Homo sapiens: one gene and its partners. The protein of the gene in region 5 interacts with the protein of the main gene of each other region in a pairwise test. Each region holds a gene or a part of one and is shown on either strand. Other genes may lie near its edges. The genes, in order: PSMA3, FRS3, KRTAP5-7, FHL5, DMRT3, TRIM23 and REL.

The links.
Region 1: the proteins of DMRT3 (region 5) and PSMA3 interact in binary tests that used the Homo sapiens proteins (3 or more experiments, as listed by UniProt).
Region 2: the proteins of DMRT3 (region 5) and FRS3 interact in binary tests that used the Homo sapiens proteins (3 or more experiments, as listed by UniProt).
Region 3: the proteins of DMRT3 (region 5) and KRTAP5-7 interact in binary tests that used the Homo sapiens proteins (3 or more experiments, as listed by UniProt).
Region 4: the proteins of DMRT3 (region 5) and FHL5 interact in binary tests that used the Homo sapiens proteins (3 or more experiments, as listed by UniProt).
Region 6: the proteins of DMRT3 (region 5) and TRIM23 interact in binary tests that used the Homo sapiens proteins (3 or more experiments, as listed by UniProt).
Region 7: the proteins of DMRT3 (region 5) and REL interact in binary tests that used the Homo sapiens proteins (3 or more experiments, as listed by UniProt).

Annotation. Positions count from the first base shown.
Region 1 is NC_000014.9:58,254,843-58,258,342, reverse strand, and holds part of PSMA3 (proteasome subunit alpha type-3), read right to left. Parts: intron 599-3,500; coding exon 497-598; intron 419-496; coding exon 345-418; intron 1-344. UniProt on the Homo sapiens protein: Component of the 20S core proteasome complex involved in the proteolytic degradation of most intracellular proteins. This complex plays numerous essential roles within the cell by associating with different regulatory particles.
Region 2 is NC_000006.12:41,769,901-41,773,400, forward strand, and holds the end of FRS3 (fibroblast growth factor receptor substrate 3), read right to left. Parts: intron 3,060-3,500; coding exon 2,898-3,059; intron 2,065-2,897; coding exon 1,916-2,064; intron 1,634-1,915; coding exon 719-1,633; 3' UTR 276-718; downstream 1-275. UniProt on the Homo sapiens protein: Adapter protein that links FGF and NGF receptors to downstream signaling pathways. Involved in the activation of MAP kinases. Down-regulates ERK2 signaling by interfering with the phosphorylation and nuclear translocation of ERK2.
Region 3 is NC_000011.10:71,526,082-71,529,169, forward strand, and holds KRTAP5-7 (keratin-associated protein 5-7), read left to right. Parts: upstream 1-1,185; 5' UTR 1,186-1,219; coding exon 1,220-1,717; 3' UTR 1,718-2,588; downstream 2,589-3,088. UniProt on the Homo sapiens protein: In the hair cortex, hair keratin intermediate filaments are embedded in an interfilamentous matrix, consisting of hair keratin-associated protein (KRTAP), which are essential for the formation of a rigid and resistant hair shaft through their extensive disulfide bond cross-linking with abundant cysteine residues of hair keratins.
Region 4 is NC_000006.12:96,604,628-96,608,127, reverse strand, and holds part of FHL5 (four and a half LIM domains protein 5), read right to left. Parts: intron 3,379-3,500; coding exon 3,204-3,378; intron 2,227-3,203; coding exon 2,057-2,226; intron 1-2,056. UniProt on the Homo sapiens protein: May be involved in the regulation of spermatogenesis. Stimulates CREM transcriptional activity in a phosphorylation-independent manner.
Region 5 is NC_000009.12:986,655-989,443, reverse strand, and holds part of DMRT3 (doublesex- and mab-3-related transcription factor 3), read right to left. Parts: intron 1-2,789. UniProt on the Homo sapiens protein: Probable transcription factor that plays a role in configuring the spinal circuits controlling stride in vertebrates.
Region 6 is NC_000005.10:65,607,334-65,610,833, forward strand, and holds part of TRIM23 (E3 ubiquitin-protein ligase TRIM23), read right to left. Parts: intron 2,126-3,500; coding exon 1,910-2,125; intron 1-1,909.
Region 7 is NC_000002.12:60,916,074-60,919,573, reverse strand, and holds part of REL (proto-oncogene c-Rel), read right to left. Parts: intron 2,698-3,500; coding exon 2,557-2,697; intron 1,384-2,556; coding exon 1,279-1,383; intron 1,181-1,278; coding exon 968-1,180; intron 1-967. UniProt on the Homo sapiens protein: Proto-oncogene that may play a role in differentiation and lymphopoiesis.

The DNA of each region.
Region 1 (3,500 bases), on a different chromosome or scaffold from region 5:
AGCAGCTCCTAAGTAGCTGTGACTACAGGCATGTGATACTGCACCTGGCTAAATTTTAAATTTTTTTTGTAGAGATAGGTTCTCACTGCGTTGGCCAGGCTGGTCTCATACTCCTGGGCGCGAGGGATCCTCCCACCTCAACCTCCCAAAGTACTGGGATTACAGGCTTGAGCCATGGCACCCAGCCTCAAGTAGTTTCTATGTACACTGTTTTATTTAATCATTGCCCTAATACTTATCGACGAGTTTCTATTTTTAAGTATGTAAAAGGCTAAGATGCTGGGGAACATAATAAATATCTATAGTACAGATCTGCCTTTTGAATAATTCACAAAATTTCTTACCTGCAGCCAAAAGGTCTAACAGCACTGTAGAGTGTATATGCATGCACATACATGGCCACTCTGTCTGCAAGATGCTATGGAGGGAAGCAGAAGAGCTTATTAATAAACTTCTATTACTGTCCAAAAGGTTCCTCAATATGTTATCAACTTACTTTTAGTGGAATGTTGTAGCCAAAGTTAGATCTGAAGTTGGAAGCTTCTTCTCTTGCTATGTCTGCTAAAGAACGAGCATCTGCCAACAAACCTGCTACTGCCTGAAAAAAAAGCACCAATTTACTAGAGGAACACATTCCTATCACAAATCAAAGTCTGCAATTAATAAAGACTTATTAAACATTTTTTTAACAAGTATTACCATTCAAAATAAACTTTTTTGGCTTAAAGGTCTCTCTACAAGGCATTTTGATGCTTGAGTATGAAATTATAATTTAGAAATTTAGTAAGTATAACTTCATTGCTTTGTCCAATGTTCATATTCAGGACATTTCCTTTTTTTTTTTTGATACGGGGTCTCGCTCTGTCACCAGGGCTGGAGTACAGTGGCATGATCTCCGCTCACTTCACACTCTGCCTCCTGGGTTCATGCCATTCTCCTGCCTCAGCCTCCTGAGTAGCTGGGACTACAGGCGCCTGCCACCACGCCCGGCTAATTTTTTTGTATTTTTAGTAGAGATGGGGTTTCACCATGTCAGCCAGGACGGTCTTGATCTCCTGACCTCGTGATCTGCCTGCCTCAGCCTCCTAAAGTGCTGGGATTACAGGCGTGAGCCACCGTGCCCGGCCAATATTCAGGACTACTTCTATCATAAATCCTCTTCCCCTGATTTACTACCACTACCTCATTATAACGAATAAAAACCATGGGTCTTGGTCAGATTTTTTTTTTTTTTTTTTTTTGAGACAGAGTCTCACTGTGTCACCTAGGCTGGAGCACAATGGCACCATCTGGGCTCACTTCAACCTTTGCCTCTCAGGTTCAAGGGATTCTCCTGCCTCAGCCTCCCCAGTAGCTGGGATTGGCTAATTTTTATATTTTTAGTAGAGACAGGGTTTGGTTTTGTCATGTTGGCCAGGCTGGTCTTGAACTCCTGACCTCAGGTGATCAGCCTGCCTCAGCCTCCCAAAATGTTGGGATTATGGGTGTGAGCCGCCGTGCCCGGCCCAAATTTGTTCTTTTCTCTAAAGTTATTACAGGTTGAGGATATCTAATCCAAAAATCTGAAATTTAAAACGCTTCAGAATCTGAAACTTTTTGAGTGCCAACATGACACTCAAAGGAAATGCTCAGGCCGGACCTGGTGGCTCACACCTGTAATCCCAGCACTTTGGGAGGCTGAGGCAGGTGGATCACAAGGTCACGAGTTCAAGACCAGCCTGGCCAAGATGGTGAAATGCCGTCTCTACTAAAAATACAAAAATTAGCCAGGCGTGGTTGCAGGCACCTGTAATCCCAGTTACTTGGGAGGCCGAGGCAGAGAATTGCTTGAACCTGGGAGGCGGAAGTTGCAGTGAGCCGAGATCGCGCCACTGCACTCCATCCTGGGCAACAGAGCGAGACTCCATCTCAAAAAAAAAAAAAAAAGGAAATGCTCAGTAGAGCTTTTTGGATTTTGAATTTTCAGATTAAGGATGCTCAGCTGATGAGTATATAATGCAGATATTCCAAAATCGAAAAATATCCGATATACTGCTGGTCCCAAGCATTTTAGACGAGAGATACTCAACCTGTAACTGTTTTGTTCTAAAAGGCACAATCGCAAATCTTTTTTCAGCCTATTGGCTGAATAAACTACAATGATAAACCATTCCTCTTTCAAGATTTGCGGCTTAGAACTGCAGTTACTAGGCCGGGCACGGTGGCTCATGCCTGTGATCCCAGCACTTTGGGAGGCCGAGGCAGGGGGATCACCTGAGGTCAGGAGTTTGAAACCAGCCTGGACAACATGGTGAAACCCCTACTAAAAATACAAAAATTAGTCAGGTTTGGTGGCGGGCACCTATAATCCTACCTACTCCCAAGGCTGAGCCACAAGAATCACTTGAACTCGGGAGGCGGAGGCTGCAGTGAGCCGAGATCACGCCACTACACTCCAGCCTGAGCAACAGAATGAGACTTTGTCTCAAAACAAAAACAAAAACAAAAACAGAATTGCAGTTACTATGTATGTGCCGAGAGGTCCTCAGGCACTGCAGTGAAATCACATGTTAGTGTGGCATATCTTTTTTTTTGAGATGGAGTTTTGCTCTTGTTGCCCAGGCTAGAGCACAGTGGTGCAATCGCGGCTCACCGCAACCTCCACCTCCCAGGTTCAAGGGATTCTCCTGCCTCAGCCTCCCGAGTAGCTGGGAGTACAGGCATGCGCCACCACGCCCGGCTAATTTTTGTGTTTTTAGTAGAGACAGGGTTTCTCCATGTTGGTCAGGCTGGTCTTGAACTTTCGACCTCAGGTGATCCGCCCGCCTTGGCCTCCGAAAGTGCTGGGATTACAGGTGTGAGCCACTGCACCTGGCCTAGTGTGGCACATTCTAAGTTTGGAGAAAAATGTCCAAGTAGTTCCGTTTGAACATTAGATCGTTTTACTACATTCCTTTCAATGCCACCACATCTTTGAGAAGCTTGGCTGTTAGTGGTTGCTGTGAAAAAAAGTAAGTACTGTGCAAAAATCAGTGTGGAACAGGAAATGACAGTGGCCACATCCAAATTTGGGAGGTTGTGCAGTGTATATACTAGAAATTTTGGTTGCTTAAAATAAAACATTTTAATTTTTAAATAAAAATATTTTTCACTATGTGTGTATTTAAAAAAAAAAAACGGCTACTAAGTTTTTAGGATGTAAACACTAAGTTCTTTGGATCTAAATACTTAATAAATGAAACCATTAGGTATTTTCGGCCTAGGGAAGCCATGAGAAAAACTACTGAGACACTTAAGGTACCATAAACCAACCAAGTTTTTGAAACCCTCTAGCCCAGGACAGTTACAGAATTTAAAAGTGGTATCACAATCTTTAATAGCCTTTTTTTCCTACGCTACCCAGTAATAGTAATAATGATAATTACTAAGAGATACTGAGCACTCATTACATGTTAAGCATTTTGCATAATAATTTTTAACCTCACAACAACTGTATGTGCCAAGTACTATTATCACTCTTG
Region 2 (3,500 bases), on a different chromosome or scaffold from region 5:
CCTGTAACTCTAGCTACTTGGGAGGCTGAGGCGGGAGAACTGCTTGAGCCCGGGAGGTGGAGATTGCAGTGAGCTGAAATCACGCCACTGCACTCCAGCCTGGGCCACAAGAGCGAAACTCTGTCTCAAAAAAAAAAAAAATCATGGACTTGTCACAAAAACCATAACTGACCCAAATTCCCCAGAGTGAAGCCCTTACCTCGATTAGGCCTGCCCTGTGTCCAACCCAGGACCACACCAGAAAAGATTCCCTAAGAAGATGATATCCACTGGGCCAGAATTTAAAAATAATTATATTAATAATAAATATGTTAAATTACATTTAAAACAATAAATAGAAAAATAAACTGATAAATAAAATCAACAGGTACAAAATGTTTCAAAATTCCAACCAAAAAAAACACACACGGACAGTCGGCAGACAAGACAAATGGACAGAACGGGAGGGCGCTAAACGCAATCACAGGAACCCTTCACAGTTGACGTCTCGGCTCCCTCCTCGCCTGGTCACCCTTCTCTCCCCAGCCTGGAGACAGACCAGGAGACTCGGTGGCTGATATCTCTGGGGACTCCAGCCAGCACAGGGAAGCATCTGGTCCCACCTCCATGCCTTCTGCAAAGCAACCCTGAACCCTGGGGAGGGTGGGTTCAGAGGACAGGAGTGTGAGGCAGAGGCTGGATCATGGTGGGGCAGAGGGTGGTGAGGACCGGGAAGTCCCTACAGAGGCAGGTCGGTGCTGTTGTGCCGGGTTTTCCTGGCGGTGCCATCGTCTCGGGGCAGAGCTCTCTGCAGGTTGGACATGGCCACGGTCTTTTTGAGGTCAATCACGGCGTAGGAGTCTGAGCTTCGGGCAGGGTGGGTGGTGGGCATGGGGGCTTGGGGGCTCGAGGGGTTCTGGGGCCCCTTAGGGCGGTCTCCACCCCAGCCCTTTAGCTCCACCTGGATGTAGTTAAGCTGCCTTGGGGGCTCGGGCCCCGGCCGGCGGAAATCAAAGTTGAAGACCCTTGGGGAGCCGCGGCGGCGGGTCAGTGGCACAGGAAAGCTGCCGTGGCTGCGGATGGCGGCCCGGGTGCTGGTGGGCTTCTGCAGTGGGGTCTCGTCCTCCTCACCATCAGGGAAGCCATTGGAAGAGGGTGTGAGCCCATCCCTCGAGTCCCCATCATCCCCAGCCTCCCCTCCCAGCTGCTGGGCTTGGCTTTCCCACACAGGGGGCAGTGGGGGCAGGTTCTCATAGTGCAGCAGGGCGGCCCGGCGGTGGGCAAGGCCATTCCAGCCCGGCTCCTCTGGGCTCAGTCTCCAGCCAGCCCCTCGCCACAGCCCCCCGGTGACGTTCTCGTAGGTGCACTTGGGCTGGGCTGGACACTCAGAAGGGGCCTCATTGTTATTATTGTGGTGTGGGGGGTCATGCAGGCTGGGACAGAGGCCCTGGCACTTCACCATGTGCCGCCGAGCAGGGGTCGGGCCCAACACAAACTTCACCTGGCCTGGCTGCAAGAACACCTGTGGGTCCCGTTGGTCAGGTCCCCGGGCCTGCGGGAGGAAGGGTGCCTGACCCTCAGGCAGGGGCTGCAGGCAGTGGCGGCCCCTGCGGTGGTCATCTTCACTGGCCGGTGTGTTGACATAGGTGTGGGACTGGGGAAAGAGTCCAAGTGAGGCAGGAGTGTCCCAGGGCAGGGAGAAAAGAGAACAGAAGGGACAGGATGAGAGAAAAGAAGCACACAGAAAAAGACCTGGAGTTTCTTCTTCCTTGTCCTCCAACCCTTCTGAGGAAGCTGCTCCCTTTTGGGGACAGGAAGGGACCGTTACAATGTTCTTCCCCTTCCCGTGATCCTTACTGGGAGGAGGTGGCCTTATTTCCTATCCCTCGTCCCCACCCAGACCAACAGGGCAGGGGCTGGCCGGCTGCGTGCTCACCTGCTCATCAGGAGCAATGAGGGCATGGGTGGACTCTTCCCCAAGCGAGGGGTGCCGCAGGCTGCTTGTCGAGAGCCGCCGGGGAGCTGAGAATCGTGGGCCCTCTCCAGGGCAGCCATTGGAAAAGCTGGAGACAGTGTAGCCTAGAGCTGAGCACACGGGAGACAAGCCCAGGAGAGGGGAACTTAAGCCACCTGACAACCACTTGCAGCTGTGTGTGTGGCATCCTGGGACTCCTCTAATGGAGGACAGATGTTCTCAGGGCGTCACAGTGGTTAAACCCCACTGAGCCACCAGCCCCCCATTATCCTTCATCTTTCCTCTGCTCTTCAAACCCTGCCCTTTCCCTCAAGCTCAGCTTGAAGCACCTCACCACTGTCTCCATTATAGCCTCACCCGAAACGCATAAAGCACATCTTGCTGTCACTGGACCGTCCCTTTGCTTCATTCTAGGTCTGCCAGTAAGGTCCAGGGAAGCTCCTCAAAAAAAGGGACTGCGCTTCTATTTCTCCTGTCCCCCATGGGCCAGTCCAAGGAGCGCTGAATACCAAACAGGTACCTGATCTGAATTCAATGACTGAATAAGCAGAAATTGTAGGACCCTCTCCAGAATACGGTCATGGCCAGAGATGCCTGCACCAGCAGCAAGGAAGGTATATGGGGATGACCCAATAGACAGAGGAAGAAAGCAAAAAAACTCCAGACTGCCAATTCTACGGAAACCCAAAGTCTTCCTGTCTGCTCCCCAACCATCAGTCAATACAAGGCCCAGAACTCAACAACCTCAGTTTGAGTCACCTAGCCCAGCCCAGGACTTACCGATCCTCAAGAATGGTTCTGATCATGGACAACTGTCCTGGAAGGTTGGCTCACCCAGCCTTCTCCCAACCAGCCAGCTTAACTAGTCCCTCAGATTTGTGCTTCCTGGGCGTGTGTGTGTGTGTGTGTGTGTGTGTGTGTGTGTACACTGGGGTCTCCTCACCATTGGGTGGCTGGGGGGCTCGAGGGAGGTCAAGCTCAGCGGGGTGGCTATTGCGGGTGATGATGACAGGCTCTTCCATCACATTGATGCTGTTGCACTGCATCAGATCCTGAAGGAGGTTGAAGATTTCCTCAGCCCGGGAACACTTAAATGCAAATATTCCTGGAGAAGGAGAGGAAGAAATGACCCTAGGCAATAGGGAAGGACCAGAGGAGCTCAACAGATGCACAATGTGCAGGAAATGTCCCTCAACTCCAGTCCCAGGCCTGTAGGGGCAGGAGAGCCTCTCCTCATCTTGAGCATTCTTTTTCTTTTCTTTTTTGAGATGGAGTTTTGCTCTTGTTGCCCAGGCTGGAGTGCAATGGTGCGATCTCAGCTCACTGCAACCTCTGCCTCCCAGGTTCAAGCAATTCTCCTGCCTCAGCCTCCCAAGTAGCTGGGATTACAGGCGCCCGCCATTACACCTGGCTAATTTTTTGTATTTTTAGTTGAGACGGGGTTTCACCATGTTGGTCAGGCTGGTCTCAAACTCCTGACCTCAGGTAATCGGCCTGCTGCGGCCTCCCAAAGTGCTGGGATTACAGGCGTGAGCCACCACGCCTG
Region 3 (3,088 bases), on a different chromosome or scaffold from region 5:
CCCACCCCTCACTCCAGTGTACCCTGGATGTGGGACTGGGAGTCCAAGGACATTATTTTGGAGCTTTAAGATTTAATGGCTGCCCTGCTGGATTTCAGACATGCATGGGGTCTGTAGCCCCTTCCTTTGGGCTGATTTCTCCCTTTTGGAATGGGAATGTTTACCCAATGCCTCCACCCTCATGTATCTTCAAAGTAAATAATGTGTTTTGATTTTCACAAGTTCATTGGTGGAAGGGACTTGGACTTGGGACTTTGGACTTGATGTTGGAATGAGTCAAGACATTGAGAGGACTGTTGGGAAGAGATGATTCTATTCTGCAATGTAAGGACATGAGATTTGAGGGGTCAAGGGGATAATGATACAGTTGGGATGTCCCCTCCAAATCTCTTGTCGAAATGTAATCCCCAGTGTTGAAGGAGGGGCCTGCAAGGAGGTGTTTAGGTCATGGGGGCGGATCCCTCATGACTGGCTTAGCGCCATCTCCTTGGTGATGAGTGTGTTCACTCAGATCTGGTTGTTCGCAAGTGTGTGGCCCCTCCTCACCCCTTGCTCCCACTCTCACGATGTGGTGAGCCTGCTCCTGCTTCACCTTCCACCATGAGGAAAAGCTCCCTGAGGGCCTGCCCAGAAGCTGAGCAGAGGTGGGTGCCATGCTTGTGCAGCCTGCAGAACCATGAGCCATTCTAACCTTTCCTTTATAAATTACCCAGCTTCAAGTATTTCTTTAGAGCAATGCAAAACTGAGAATGGCATGAGTAAAATATAAAGACCATGGATAATTTTGAAATCTAAAAATGTGAAATTAATATTCCTGGGGGAGTCAACACAGGAAAGATGAGAGCACGTGGGCAAAGGCTGTTGCCCATTGGTCACATGTGGTCAGCAGAGAGCAGGTGACCAGCACCCTGGAGCTTTGCGGGAAGCACCAGACAGCCTGGAGCTGAGGTTTCAATTGTAGGGGCCAAAACAAATAGGGAAAAAGACAAATTTAGTAAACAAAGAAAGTAGATGCTCAACTGAGCCAGGAGGAAGTCACTAGCAAAGAGGAAAAAAAATAGAGCTCTGGAAAAATAGCGTAAACAGTCACAAGGAAGCGACCCTGTATTGTGCCTGACCTCTGGACAGGTATATAAAGAGCCCGGGCTCAGGGGGCTCCACACCTGCACCTCCCTCTCACCTGCTCCTCTACCTGCTCCACCCTCAATCCACCAGAACCATGGGCTGCTGTGGCTGTTCCGAAGGCTGTGGCTCCGGCTGTGGGGGCTGTGGCTCCGGCTGTGGGGGCTGTGGCTCTGGCTGTGGGGGATGTGGCTCCAGCTGCTGTGTGCCCGTCTGCTGCTGCAAGCCCGTGTGCTGCTGTGTGCCAGCCTGTTCCTGCTCCAGCTGTGGCTCCTGTGGGGGCTCCAAGGGAGGCTGTGGCTCCTGTGGGGGCTCCAAGGGGGGCTGTGGCTCTTGTGGGGGTTCTAAGGGGGGCTGTGGTTCTTGTGGCTGCTCCCAGTGCAGCTGCTATAAGCCCTGCTGCTGCTCCTCAGGCTGTGGGTCATCCTGCTGCCAGTCCAGCTGCTGTAAGCCCTGCTGCTGCCAGTCCAGCTGCTGTAAGCCCTGCTGCTGTTCCTCAGGCTGTGGGTCATCCTGCTGCCAGTCCAGTTGCTGCAATCCCTGCTGCTCCCAGTCTAGCTGCTGTGTCCCCGTGTGCTGCCAGTGTAAGATCTGAGGCTCTGGACTCAGGTCTCATGTGAGTCCTGCTAACCCCATTTTCCGAAGCTGTGACCTGTCCTTCATCGTTGAGCCCCAAACCACTGCTCAGGGTCCATTCCTCACTATAAGATGAAGCCATATCTGCCTGCCTTTTCCTAAGGAGAGTCCACCCTAATTAATGTCCATTCCCTCCTAACAAATTCTCTTCCCAAGTCAACTGCAACTGCGGCTGAATCACCCCTCACCCGCTAGCCTTGCCTTTGCTTGTGTATTCAGAGGCCTGAGCTCCTGAACCCACTTGAAGTCCTGTCTTTTCCAGCTGGAGCAGCTGGGCATGAGTGTCCCACCTGCAACAAGGTGGGCGTTTAAGAGGCTTCCTTGGAGTGGCTTTGCCTGTCCAACACTCTGCTTTATCTTAAATGAAAAGTTGCAAACTAATAAAAATACCATGCCGACAAACTGAAACACATATCTTGCTGATTTCTCTGTTGTTCGGGGTCATTACTATGGCTATGGCTATTGTTTTCTTGTTCTTGTTGTGTTTCGGACTGCGTGGGTCTGATGCTGATGTTGCTGGAAGGTGCTAGGATGGGGCTGGCTGTCTCCTCTGCCTCTCATCTCCTTCCTGGCTGACCCCTCTTTTCTCAGAACCCCTCTCTTCCTAGGTCTTTCCAGCTATTGATCTGATGGAGACAGGACTGTTCCTCAGGCCAGGGCCACAGAAGCAGAAGAGGCTGCTGAAAACTCTGGGGAGTTCAGACTTGCCTCCTTTCCCTGGTCCAGGCCTCTGCCATCTTCCTTTGGGAAGTTTTTGTAACCAACTTACTCTGATTGTCTTTGTTGTTACACAGCCTGTTGCCTCTGTAAATAAACACTCCTAGCACCAAGCCAATATTGCTTTTTAAGAATTTTGAAAGGGCCGGGCGTAGTGGCTCACGCCTATAATCCCAGCACTTTGGGAGGCCGAGGCAGGCGGATCACTTGAGGTTAGGAGTTTGCGACCTGACTGGCCAACATGGTGAAACCCTGTCTCTACTAAAAATATAAAAATTAGCTGAGTGTGGTGGCACGTGTCTGTAATCCTGGCTACTTCGGAGGCTGAGGGAGGAGAATGGCTTCAACCTGGGAGGGGGAGGTTGTGATGAGTCGAGGTCGCGCCACTGCACTCCATTCTGGGCGACAGAGCAAGACTCCGTCAAAAAAAAAAAAAGGCAATATTAATAGAGTTGAATTATTTCAAGTTATTTGGAAACACAGCAATTTATTGGTGGGATATGTCCTAAGCATAGAAAGAACACAAAAATAAAATTCCTAAGCTATTTTTAGTAGTCATGGTGGCAGCAGTGGTGTCGTTATTCTGCTGTGAATGCTGTATGGAAAAAGCAAA
Region 4 (3,500 bases), on a different chromosome or scaffold from region 5:
CTGTTTTAGTCTGTCTTTAAGAAATGCAGCCTAAAATTGGCCAACTCAGTTGTCTCTCAAAACAGTGAGATAAACCTATTCATTTTATTTCCAGCAAGATTTTATTTTCTTTAGTTTTTAAGTTTTGTATATTTTTTAGAGATAGGATCTCATTGTCACCCAGGCTGGAGTACAGTGGCTCAATCATAGCTCACTGCAGCCTTGAATTTCTGGGCCCAAGTGATCCTCCTGCCTCAGCCACCCAAGTAGCTGGGACTACAGGCACGTGTCACCATACTTGGCTAATTTTTAAACTTTTTTTTTTTTTTATACAGACAGGGTGTCACTATGTTGCCCAGGCTGGTCTTGAACTCCTGGCCTCAGGCAATCTTCCCACCTTGGCTTTCCAAAGTGTTGGGATTACAGACGTGAGCCACCATGCCCAGCTCCAGCATGTTTTTAAATGCCGTCATTGACCCTGGTAATTCTTTGGAGCTTCATATGTCATATGGCTTGATTGCTGCTTGTAAAGTCACCTTCTAAGCCAGTGTTTTGGTAGAGTAATGAAGGTCTCAGTCATAAGATTATTTTATGTCATGTGATCAATTGTAATTCTCAGCCATCAACATAGTGTAATTTAATAATGATAACTTAGCATAGTGTATTGCTGCCTCTTTAAATGCAGTAGTGGTATTGGTTATGTATGTTAAACAGTTAACTGCGTGTGTGTGTGTGTGTGTGTATGTGCATGTGTGTTCACATATGTGTGCATAGAAAGTGGTAGTGTGACTTCCAGCTGTCCAGATATACAAATGGGCTTAAGAGTTCTGCCAAAGTAACCCACAGATAAAAAATACTTTGAAACCACTATACTAATCCAATGTATTTTCATGATTCAGCTTTCTCATGACAATTTATGGTGTCATTTTAAACTTATGATGCCTCGCAGGTCAAGGATTTCTTTGAGAACCTCCATATATATTTTATGGAATGCAGACAGGCTTCATCAAGGTGTTAGAGCTACTTTTTCACATAAAAGCTTAGAGGATAAAAAAAGAATTGGATGAAGTTTACTTCAAAAATATTACTTTTTTTTTCTCTTAGAAAATGTTTTTTTTGAGTGGGAAGCCAAGTCAGAAGGCCCTACATGATCCTGGAACTGGAGTGAAGGAACTTGCTGCTCTTAGTCTTCTTTCTGTCTTTTGTCTACTGAACTTCCCCCATGATCTTGGCACTCTCTTGAGCCGATTGCCCTACTCATAGGAAATACAAAAGCTTCAAGTCAAGAAGACATTTGCATTGCTGAGAAAGAATGTGAGAAGTTAAACATCCTGTTTAACTTGGTTCCCTTAGTCACTTTGTGAGGCAAATCCATATTTCTCTGAAACAGTTAATACTGAATAGATCAAACATTATTTTTTAAGAAACATCTGTATTCAAAGAGAGACCTGTGCTTTCTCCCAGAATACGTGAGATCTTGTATAAAAGCAGTGAATGGGCCGAGTGTGGTGGCTCATGCCTGTAATCCCAGTACTTTGGAAGGCCAAGGCAGGTGGATCACCTGAGGTCAGGAGTTCGAGACCAGACTAGCCAACATGGTGAAACCCTGTCTCTACTAAAAATACAAAAATTAGCTGGACACAGTGGCACGCACCTGTAATCCCAGCTACTTGGAAGGCTGAGACATGAGAATCTCTTGAACCTGGAAGGCAGAGGTTGCAGTGAGCCGAGATTGTACCACTGCACTCCAGCCTGGGTGACAGAGCGAGATTCCATCCCAAAAAAATAAAACAACAACAACAACAAAAAACAGTGAAATGAACTGGAATACCAAATCACTTGAGCTGTTTGGAATATTAAATTCTTGTTGTGGCTGGAATTTTATGGTTAATAAAAAAAAAAAAGATGGTCATGCTCATCGTGACAACTAGTGGTTTGGACATGTTGAAAGTCCAAACTACCATGGGTGTGTTGATTACAGATATAACATAATAGTATCAGTTCATTCTAAATATATGATACAGCTAAAAAGAAATAGTCTGAGTTTCCACAAGCTTCACCCTCTTTAGAAAATTACCTTCTTACAAAAGTTGCAGTAGTGAGCAAACTCCTTCTCAAAACATGGCACACAATAATTGCCACTCTCTTTGGAGATCAAAGGCTTTGTCCCTATAGGTTGTCGGCAATTCTCACACACAAAACAGGTTTCATGCCAGTAGTTTCCCTTAAATTCCATTTTGCGGGAACCTGTACTCCAAAAGTAAGGCCATGTTAGTATAAGTCAAGCATAATTTTATTTTTTAAGCAAATACAGATCAAATTACTTAAAAACGTTTTAAGTTAAGATGATAAATGAATTGTCCTTTTAGAAAAATAGTATTTTTTCAGGTTCAAAAAAACCCATTCATCTGGAGAAAAAAAAATGGTTAATAAAGTTTAGCCATGATGATGGAGAATCACTCTTAGACTGAAAACTTTTTCAAGCTCTGCATAACCTATAATCTGGAGATGTAAAAGTACTTTTAATGGAGACTCCTAATGGTTTCACATGGTTTGGATAAATTGGGCCATAATAATCATTACAAGGGTATTAAAAATGCCCAGAGCACAACTACTGAGACTATACTGTGCAGTTATGGCCTTCTAGAAATTCTCTGAATCCATAATAAGAAAATGAGAGAGCAAGAGTGGCAGAGAATGAATTATGTTCTTATGCTGCTGACCATAGAGATTGAGAAGATCAAAATATAAAGAATTAGTCCTTGCCAAAAGTGGAATGATATACATGAACCCTGTCTTCCCTAAGAGAGAATAACAATAACCGATCCTCAAAACAGTTTGTGTCAAGCTACAAAATGGCAGTTGGCCCCAATCGCCTATGATGAATCACTCTTTCTGATGCCATTGATTGTGCCTAGGGCACTGTGTTTAATGTAGTGTTATTGGTATACATTTTGTCTTTATTTTATGGGTAAGATTCTGGTTTGAAATGTTTCTATGAATTAGACTATATGAAAATACACAGAACACTGTAATTTACCTGTTCAAGGATAATGAATGAATAATCTTTTTATTTCTAAAGTACACGGAAGAAGATTGAGAGAGTAAGAAAGATATCTTTCTCAAAACCAGGGTTTTGGGAGCTGCTGCACTCCTCATGTGCTGGGACTTAATGAAAAGCATCACAGCTTCAGTTAGAGACAGGAGCCCCCTTGAGACCCTACCAGGCATGATGGTCCTCTTGCAGTGGAAGCACTTGGAGGAGCACTCGTTAGAATAGCACTCCGTGCACAGCAGGCGCTCATCCTTGGCAGCAAAAGGCTTTTCCACCAAAGAGTGATTGCATTTGGTGCACTTGAAGCATCCTTCATGCCAGTGCCGGTCTTTGTAACAAAGATCCTTTGAGACAGTAAATAAAAGTTAATTAAATGTGGTTGTGACAATACAGGCCATTTTATGAAACAAAACTGAACACTCCTGGGACTCTCATGTCAGTAGGTTGTGCTAGTAGCGTGAGGGAA
Region 5 (2,789 bases):
ATCCATTGAAATCTTTCATAAGAAGCCACTTGAGGCATTGGCAAACTTGGTTGCCAATAACTTGTACTAGAAAGCAAACGAAACCAGCTATGAATTCCGGATGGCAGGATAAGTTGCTGGAGAGGAAAAAAGGAAGTGGCTAGAAAGGGTTTGTTAAATTGCACGGGGGCATTATTATCCATCAATGAAACAACGCATCACACTCCACCGCCACGGGTGGCACGAGGCAGATACCTGTGCATGAACTGTTTTGCTGGTACAGTTCATGGAAAGGACTTGAAGATACCTTTTTTTAAAGCCAGTGAAATTTGAAGATACCTTTTTATATTATATGAAAAGAAGAAGGAGGGAAAAAAAGGCTTCCCAAATAAAGCAGAGACTTGCGATAAAGTAAACCAGTTGCAAATTTAACATCTTGACCTAAGAACATTTTTACTTAACAGCTGGTAATATTGCAGGGCTAAGCACACAGAAAAGAGTAAGTCAGAGTGGTTTGCTTTGCAGTAGTAAATTCCAACAGGACTTTATAATAAAGAAACATATTTTTTAGTAGCAAGCTATTTGCAAATAGAGTTTTGTCCTTTTTTGAAACACGCGCTGGCTGTGGCTACTCAAAGCCAGGGTAGCTGATCGAAAGATGAAAATTCCTAATGACCCAGTTGTTGAGTTGTAAACAATTGCTTTGCCTGTGTTTTCTGCTGCCCTGCCTGAATAGCTTCATTGTTGCCTTCTCTGTGGGCACACCTGATTATATACAGATAGCCAGCCGGTGAAATTTCATCAAAGCACCCTCTAGAAACAATCTTCTCCTACACTTGTCATTTTAAAAGCCTTAAGGGCCTACTTATGAACATTCTTCTAATACAGGTGTATCTTAAGTGTAACCAAAAAACAAAACTTTGTGAAATTTCATCAAAGCACCTTCTAGAAACCATCTTCTCCTACACTTGTTATTTATTTTAAAAGCCTTAAAGGCCTACTTAGAAACATTCTTCTAATACAGGATGTATCTCAGATGTAACCAAAAACCAAAACTTTGGCCTTTAACAAAGCAATAAATATGTGGCAAACATAAGTAAATACACTTTAAAACACTCTTCAATTACCTCAGTGCAAGTGTCAACATACATCTGATAGGAATTCATACTTATCCCAAATTTGCATTTTAATTAAACTGCTTCTTTTTTAATATAAAATATAAGGTTTCCAATGAGAGGTTCATTTGCGTCACATACATATGAAGCCATCTTCACTTTATATAATGACTCTATAGAAAGACTCTACTGTAGAATGACTCTATTTTTGTAAGAGAAATTTGACATATTCTCTCCTACAACTTCTTAGGATGGGGGACACAGCTTTTACCTCTTGAGTTAATGTGGTATTTGAACTCATGTCCTTGATTCAAAAGAGAAAAACAGCAACAAAAAGGCTTCTATAGATTTACTTTATAATCAGCTAGATCTATTTAAATGTTCCTGACTCATGACCCATACATACTTCTTGGCTGTTACTCTATTATTAAACATTTGAAAATTATTAAACACTTGAAAAGTGATAGCATATTAATATACTATCACTTTTAGAAATTGGAAAAACAAGTCAAATACTCTCCCCATGTAAATATGGACATAAAGTACTTCTTTAAAATACTATGTACTTCTAAACAGTTTCCTTATTTTTTAATTTTAGCGTAATTATCAGCACCAAGTATTTATATTTCTGCACGATACTGGGAGAAACAGAATAAAGGATGAAAAACACCAAGAAGTGTAAGACCCACACCTAGCTTATGGACCTTATCTTCTAGCTGGGGAAATAAGACACACATGCAGGAGAAGAAGCAAACAGGGCCTGGCAGCATTTGCTAAGCCTCAAATATGACACACATTGTATACCAATGTTCATGGCAGCAGCATTCACAATAGCCAAAAGGTGAAAGCAACCCAAATGTCCATCAGTGCATGAATGTATAAAACGTGGTGTACACACACACACACACACACACACACACACACACACACACACACAGTGGGATATTATTCAGCCTTAAAAAGGAATGGAATTCCAATACATGCTATAACATGGATGAACCTTGAGAACATTAGGCTAAGTGAAATAAGCCAGACACAAAAGGACAAATACTGTATGACTCTACTTATATTCGATACCAAGAATAGGGAAATTCAGAGAGAAAGTAGTGTGGTGGTTGTCAGGGGCTGGAGGAAAAGGGAATGGGGAGTTATTGTTTCATGGGTATGGAGTTTCCGTCTGGAATGATGAAAAGGTTCTGAAGATGGATGGTGGTGATGGTTGCACAACATTTTGAATAAATGCCACTGAATTGTGCCCCTAAAAATGGTTAAAATTGTAAACTTTATGTTATATATACTTTACCACAATAAAAAAAGAAAAATATATGCCACACAGTGTCATAGTAATATAGAGAATGAAGAGATTTTTTTAAGCAAGAGAAACAACTAGTCCTTCTTGGGAATAAAGCGTACATAGGCACAGCTGGAAAGCTCAAAGCTCAACTTTTTTTTTTTTTTTGAGACAGAGTCTCACTCTGTCACCCAGGCTGGAGTGCAGTGGCATGGTCTCGGCTCACTGGAAACTCTGCCTCCTGGGTTCAAGTGATTCTCCCGCGTCAGCCTCCCGAATAGCTGGGACTACAGGTGTGTGCCACCACACCCAGCTAATTTTTGTATTTGTAGTAGAGACAGGGTTTCACTATGTTGGCCAGGCTCCTCTCGAACTCCTGACCTCATGATCCACCCGCCTCAGCC
Region 6 (3,500 bases), on a different chromosome or scaffold from region 5:
TCTCATCTCGAATTGTAATCCCCACATGTCAAGGGAGGGACATGATTGGATTATTGGGGCAGTTTCCCTCATGCTGTTCTCATGATAGTGATTAATCATGACATCTGATGGTTTTAAAGTGTGGCACCTCTCCTTTGCTCTCTCTTTCTCTCCTGCCGTCCTGTAAACAAGGTGCTTGCTTCCCCTTCGCCTTCCCCCATGATTGTCTAACTTTCCTGAAGCCTCCCCAGCCATGCAAACCTGTAAATTAAGCCCCTTTCCTTTATAAATTACCCAGTCTCAGGTAGTATCTGTAAAGCAGTGTGAAAATGGACTAATATACCAGTCATTTTGGCACAACACTTCAGAAACTCTAAAATACTTAAATATTTCAGTAACTATGAACAAACTTTTTCATAAAATAAATATGAAAATACTTTTAAGTGTTCAAGTAAATATGATTTAGGACATGACTCCACTCTGATTTTGCTATGTAGCTTCATTATCCGCCATGAGTTAAACATGTATTTATTAAGCTCTTTCTATCTAGATGCAAAGAATTTAGTGACACAAAGATGAACAAGATGCATCAAAGATGAACAAGGTCAGCATCTAAAACACATAGGCATATTGTGTCATTCAAGGTCAAATCGGAAGACACAAATCACACCATTACTTGAATAGAAAGAACTTAAAATAAAAACTGTTAACTAGGTGTAGTTATTAACTAGGTAGCTAAAAGGTTAAAAGGAACTCTGAGGTATTAAGGAGGTAGCAATTGTATGAAATAACATAGCTACCACTTCCAGTGCTAAAGGAATAAAAGGAAGAAGTTAGAATTATTAAAACTTAGAAACTTGCAGGAGTGGCTCATGGAGCTGAAACTCAAACCTCCGAGAAGGGTGGTCTCCTCACATGAGTAACTATGCCCCCTCTTGACAGTACCTAACATGGGCCCAGCTGGCAACACAATTATGAGGTCTGTAGAGTTCTAGCCCTAGTATCACAAAATAGAGGATAGAAGAGTAGGTTTGGAGCTGAAAATCAACTTAATAAATAGCATACATATCAACTGTTACAATTCAGTGTGGTAAGGACTAAATGATAACCCAAGACTGATGAGGCTATAGACTGGCCACTCTCATGTAAGTGTAATCACATATTTAAGAGAAAAAGCTCTACAATGGTACAAGGCTTAGCCTACAATGATTTGAAATCAACACAATTATTAGCAATATATCAGTGAAGATAACACAGACTGCAGCTTTTCTGAAATTCCTAGGGCAATAGTTATTCTTATACCTCACACTTATGAAAACAGATCCAAAACACAAATGGGTAAAGCTGACATTTGTGTTAGAATAACTGAATCTCATTTATTTAAAAAAGTAAGTCATCTGCAAACTGGGTAACAAATTTCTTATGGTATCTCAACCATCACAAAACATACGTTTGCTCTAACAGTGAAGAACCACTGAATTATAGCAGACGTAGGCAGTACATGGTAGAGAGGCACTCAAAAAAAGACCAACAAATAGAAAGCTTCAAAGAAAGGCAAATATTTAAGCTGGACCTTGAAGGAGAAGGAAGATTTCCACTATTAGAAAAGAGAGATATATGCACTCCAAGCAGAAAAAAAAAAAAAACTACATATATGCTTGGCAAAGAAGAGTAAAAGGATTTGGCATAACTGAAGAATGGCAAGAAGTTAGAAGGCCTCAAGAACCCATGGCTTATGGTGGGAAAGGCACGTGAACGACACTGATAATTCCATACTAGTGAAATAATTCAAGGTTGCAGACCATTTCCTAAGCACAAAGTTACTGCATACAGCAGACACAAAATATTAATAAAACACACTAATGTATACCTCTGGTAATTATCTACTTAAACTTACAACTAAGTCCCTAACCACATTTAAACTACCTACCTGCTGCAAAGTCTTTTCACAGTGGAGGCAGGCTGCAGAAACCTCTGACAACAAAATAGTCATATCTTCTTGTTGCTGCCTGAGCCAAATCAATTTTTCACGAACATGAGCATCAACAACACTTAGAGCCATTTCTTCTTGACGACACAGAGTTTCATGTAGATCATAAAAATAAGCTCGAATACATGACCGGGCATTCTCTGCAGTCCCTGGTACCTAAGAAAATGAAAATAAATTTTAAGCAACTGTAATGTTAATAAAGATTTTACCTGTGAAATATTTAAAATTTCAGCCTAGGCAACATGGCAAAACTCTGTCTCTACAAAAAATGGAAAAAATTAGCCAGCCGTGGTGGCATGTGCCTGTAGTCCCAGCTACTCAGGAGGCTGAGGCGGGAGGATTGATTGAGCCCCAGAAGTCAAGGCTGCAGTGAGTGGTGATCACAACACTGCATGCCAGCCTGGGTGACCGAGCGAGACATTGTTTAAATACCATCTATATTAAATTCCAAAATATAAATCTCCATGCTAGATCTTTCCCCTAATGCACAGACATTGGAAATTCAACTGTTTATAAATGACATCTCAAGCAAAATGGAATGCCTAATCTCCAGTCTCCCCTATTCCCAAACCTAATTGCCTCTGTCTTGGTAAATGGCAACTCCATCCTTCAGGATGTTGAAGCAAAAACAACCGGAGTCATCATTATCAGCTCTCTTTCATAGCCCACTAGTCCCTCAGCAAATTCTGCTGACTTCAAAATACACCCAAAATCTGATCATGCCTCATCACCTCTAAGTTACCTATCCAATCAATATTAACAATTAATCACTAAGACCTATCTATTCTACTTATTTAAAATCTCAAATCCATTGACTTGTGTCCACTCTCACTACCCTAGTGTATTATAGGCCATAAACATCTCTAGTATTTTAACTAGAAAACTTTAACAACATCCTAATAGGTCTGCCTGCTTCCAATTTTGTTGCTCCTCCAATTCATTTTCTACATTTAAAACAACCTTTCTTGAGGAAAATCTGATTATATCATTCCTAAGTCAATTCTTCAATGGCTCATCACTGTCCTTAAACTAAGTTCTGAACTCTTTAACATGGCTGACAAGATCCTGCATGATTTGGCTTTGAACTCTCCATATCCTCTTTTCTTGTCATGTCCCATTCAATACTTAAAGCTCTAACTACAGTGAGCTTCTTTAAGTCTCTACAATATGTACAATCCTCACTTACAAACATTTTAACATATTGTTCCCTTCTTGGGACAACTCATTCCCCGTTCTGCTCTTTTCCCTGACTGAAATTCTTCAAATCTCAGTTTAAACACCATTTCTTCTATAAGGACTTCTCTGACCTCCATAAATCATTGTCCCTGTTTTGTGATGCCAAAGCACCCTGTACTTCTCCTCCATAAAATAGTTACCATATTTCAAACTCTCTCTTTTCCATGATGAATGAGTTCCTGAAAGACAGGGACTTTTAAAAAACTTTCTAATGATTGGTGCAATACTGGCAAATTGTAATTGCCCATTAATTACTTAGTAGAAGGTGAAAATATGAAAAATAAAAAAGAATGAG
Region 7 (3,500 bases), on a different chromosome or scaffold from region 5:
CATGCCTGTAGTCCCAGCTACCTGGGAGGCTGAGACAGGAGAATTGCTTGAACCCAGGAGGCAGAAGCTGCAGTGAGCCAGGATTGCGCCACTGTACTCCAGCCTGGGCAAGACAGAGCAAGACTCCATCTCAAAAACAAAAAAACAAAAAAACAAAAAAACCCCACAAAAATTAGCCAAGTGTGGTGGTGCGCACCTATAGTCCCAGGTACTCACGAGGCTGAGGTGGGATGATCACCTGAGCCCAGGAGGCTGAGGCTCTGGTGAGCCACGATCATGCCACTGTACTCCAGCTTGAGTGACAGAGTGAGACCCTGTCTCAAAAAAAACCCAAAACAAGCTGTTTAAAATATTCATCTTGTTTTCTTATCACACAAGTCAATAATGTCAACTAATGCAATAAGGTTTGATAAGAAACCAATATAGAGACTACTCTCTGAGTGGTAAGTGCACAAAGACTAAAACAGACCTTCAAAAATAAAATAGAAATTTTAGTAAGCAGTTTAGATACTTTGAAATTATTCCATACTAATCAAACCTCTTCTTGAAGAAAGAGATGCAGAGACCAGCCTAGCCAACATGGTGAAACCCTGTCTCTACTAAAAATACAAAAGTAGTAGCCCAGCGTGGTGGCACGTGCCTATAGTCCCAGCTACTCAGGAGGCTGAGGCAGAAGAATCGCTTGAACCCGGGAGGAGGAGGTTACAGTGAGCTAAGATTGCGCCACTGCACTCTAGCCTGGGTGACAGTGAGACTCTGTCTCAAAAACAAAACAAAACAAAACAAAAAACAACCCAACAAATAAAGAGATGCAAAGAGCATAAAGAAAAAACCAACAGAAAGCTTCCAGGAAAAGAAACATAAATTATGAATATACATAACTGTACTCAAATGAATATTACAAGAAGATGTTATTAGCAGGACCACTTCAAGAAATATATAAATTATTACCAGCAAAATGTCATACCTTTTTCATCTGGCAGATATCTAAAATCCATAGATTCACTAACTTCCTGGTCAGAAGGTCTCCGCAACTGCATTTTTACTGTTACGGGTTCTGTGATAGCTTTGCAATATGGTGGAGTTTTGAAAACAATGGCTACTTGACGGTGTACATCAGCTTGTGAAAAGATGCCTTTTGCTTCCCAATCGTTCAACACAAAACGAACTTCTATGTCATCTAGTCAATAAGAAACCAAAAAAAAAAAAATGGGAAAACAAAGTAACTGCATCTATTAATCTAAAATTTATTCTAAATTCAATGAAATAAATAAATACCTTTCTGAACTTTGTCACAAAGTAGAAATATTTCATCTCCTCCTCTGACACTTCCACAATTCTTGTTTACACGACAAATCCTTAATTCTGCAGTATTTGGAGCACCTAAATATAAAGGATTTTCAAAAAAATGAGTTGCTACCTTAGTAATATTTTATTTCTTTTTGCAGGGAAGAATTTGAGGAAAAGCATTCACAGAATAAAAGTTTTAGTGTATAGATAAATGACACTAAATACATTAATCATCTATTTATCTGTCCACTTCCTTTCTAACTGCTTTACTTTAGACTTTGTGGCTTCATTTCTAGGTAATGACATATTCTCTAATTACATCTCCCTGCTTCTAAATTCTGATTCCGCCAATCAATCCTACCCACTGTCACCAGATTAATCTTCATAAATCATGACCACATCCCCATGGCAATACAATTTTCCCTATGGCAATACATCTCCCTATGGCAATACAACTTTCATGCTTCCTTTATAGCCCTAAGTCTCTCTATCCTTCTACACATAAAACAGGTATATCATACACCATTGGTGGACGTATATCTAAGTCTATGTACACACACACACACGTACACACACACACACACACACACACACACACACACAGTATTTTGGGGGAAAGTTTCATAATCTTTCAAAATGAGATATATCCATATCCTTTGAGCCAGCATTTGCCATGCAGTGAGCCATGACTGCACCACTGCACTCCAGCCTGGGTGACAGAGTGAGACCCTGTCTCCAAAAAAAAAAAAAAAACCAATAAAAAAAAATATACAAGAATATGTATTGCAGTACAGTTTGCTAGGCCAAAAAGAAAAAATGAGAAAAGAAACAAACCAAATGCCTTGTAAGAGGGTAATTAATAAAATTATGATATAACTACATAATAAAATATGCTGCTACTGAAAAGAATAAGGTGATTAAAAGGAAAATGTCCAAGATATATGGTAAGAAGAAAGTTAGTTTTTAAAACAATCATCACTTATGATTTTAAGTTGCCAAAATTGTACTGTGTCAAAAATGATGATGATGACAATGTATCTGTGTATATACAGGAAGAAGAAACTGGTAAAATATGCACCTAAGGATAGTGATTATCTCTGGAGGATGAGATTAGAGAAGATTTCCTTTCTGTTATATATTTCTCTAATGTCTGGAAGTTTTCCTATCATGAATATATTGTTTTCCTAATTACCAAAATAATTTTAAGAATTAAACTATTACAAAAAACAAGTTAAGACTACAAATATAAGAAAATGAAGTACTTACGGTTGTCATAAATTGGGTTCGAGACAACAGGAGGAAGAGCAGTCGTCAAATTACCATGTTCATCAGGGAGAAAAACTTGAAAACACAGTCTCACCACATTGAGGTCACAATCTTCAATATCATTCAGCTGTTTTTCAGGGACTGAATAGAAAAAAAAAATTTTTTAAATGTAATAGTCACATAGACCTAAAGACTTGCTAGGTCCTCCTCCCTGCCCATTATAGCCAATAACCTTGAATAGCATCCAAATATGTATGAATAAAAATAGAACAGTATACAATCTCAAGAATGCCTTTTATCATTCTTATCAAGTAATCACTATCTAACAGTATTTGATAAATTATAGCCATGTTCAGGAAGTAACTATCCCCTCACCTGGGATTTAAAGCAAAATCCCAAGTTGACATTAATAACAAATCAAAGTTTTAAAAAATAGTTGCAGGTTTGTACACAACAAAGAATGGCATTTACCCATTCATTCAACAAGTATGTATTTGGTCCAGTTGTTGTGTTAAGGACTCTGTAAATTATCTCCTAAATCTGTACAAGAATTACTTTCATCCCCATTTTACAAACGAGGAACTGAGTTTAGTTCGTTTTTTTGACATGGGGGTCTCACTCTGTTGCCCAGGCTGGAGTGCAGTGATGCGATTTTGGTTCACCTCAACCTCCGCCTCCCAGGCTCAAGTGATCTTCCCATCTCAGCCTCCTGAGTAGCTGGGACTACAGGCACATGCCACCACGCCCAGCTAATTTTTCTATTTTTTTGTAGAGATGGGGTTTCACTATGTTGCCCAGGGTGGTCTCAAACTCCCAGGCTCAAGTGATCCACCCACCTTGGCCTCCCAAAGTGTTGGGATTATGGGCGTGAGCCACTGAGCCTGGCCTGGAACTGACTGTAAAGAGATGAATTACTTGCCCAAAGTTTCACAGTGACAGGGTGG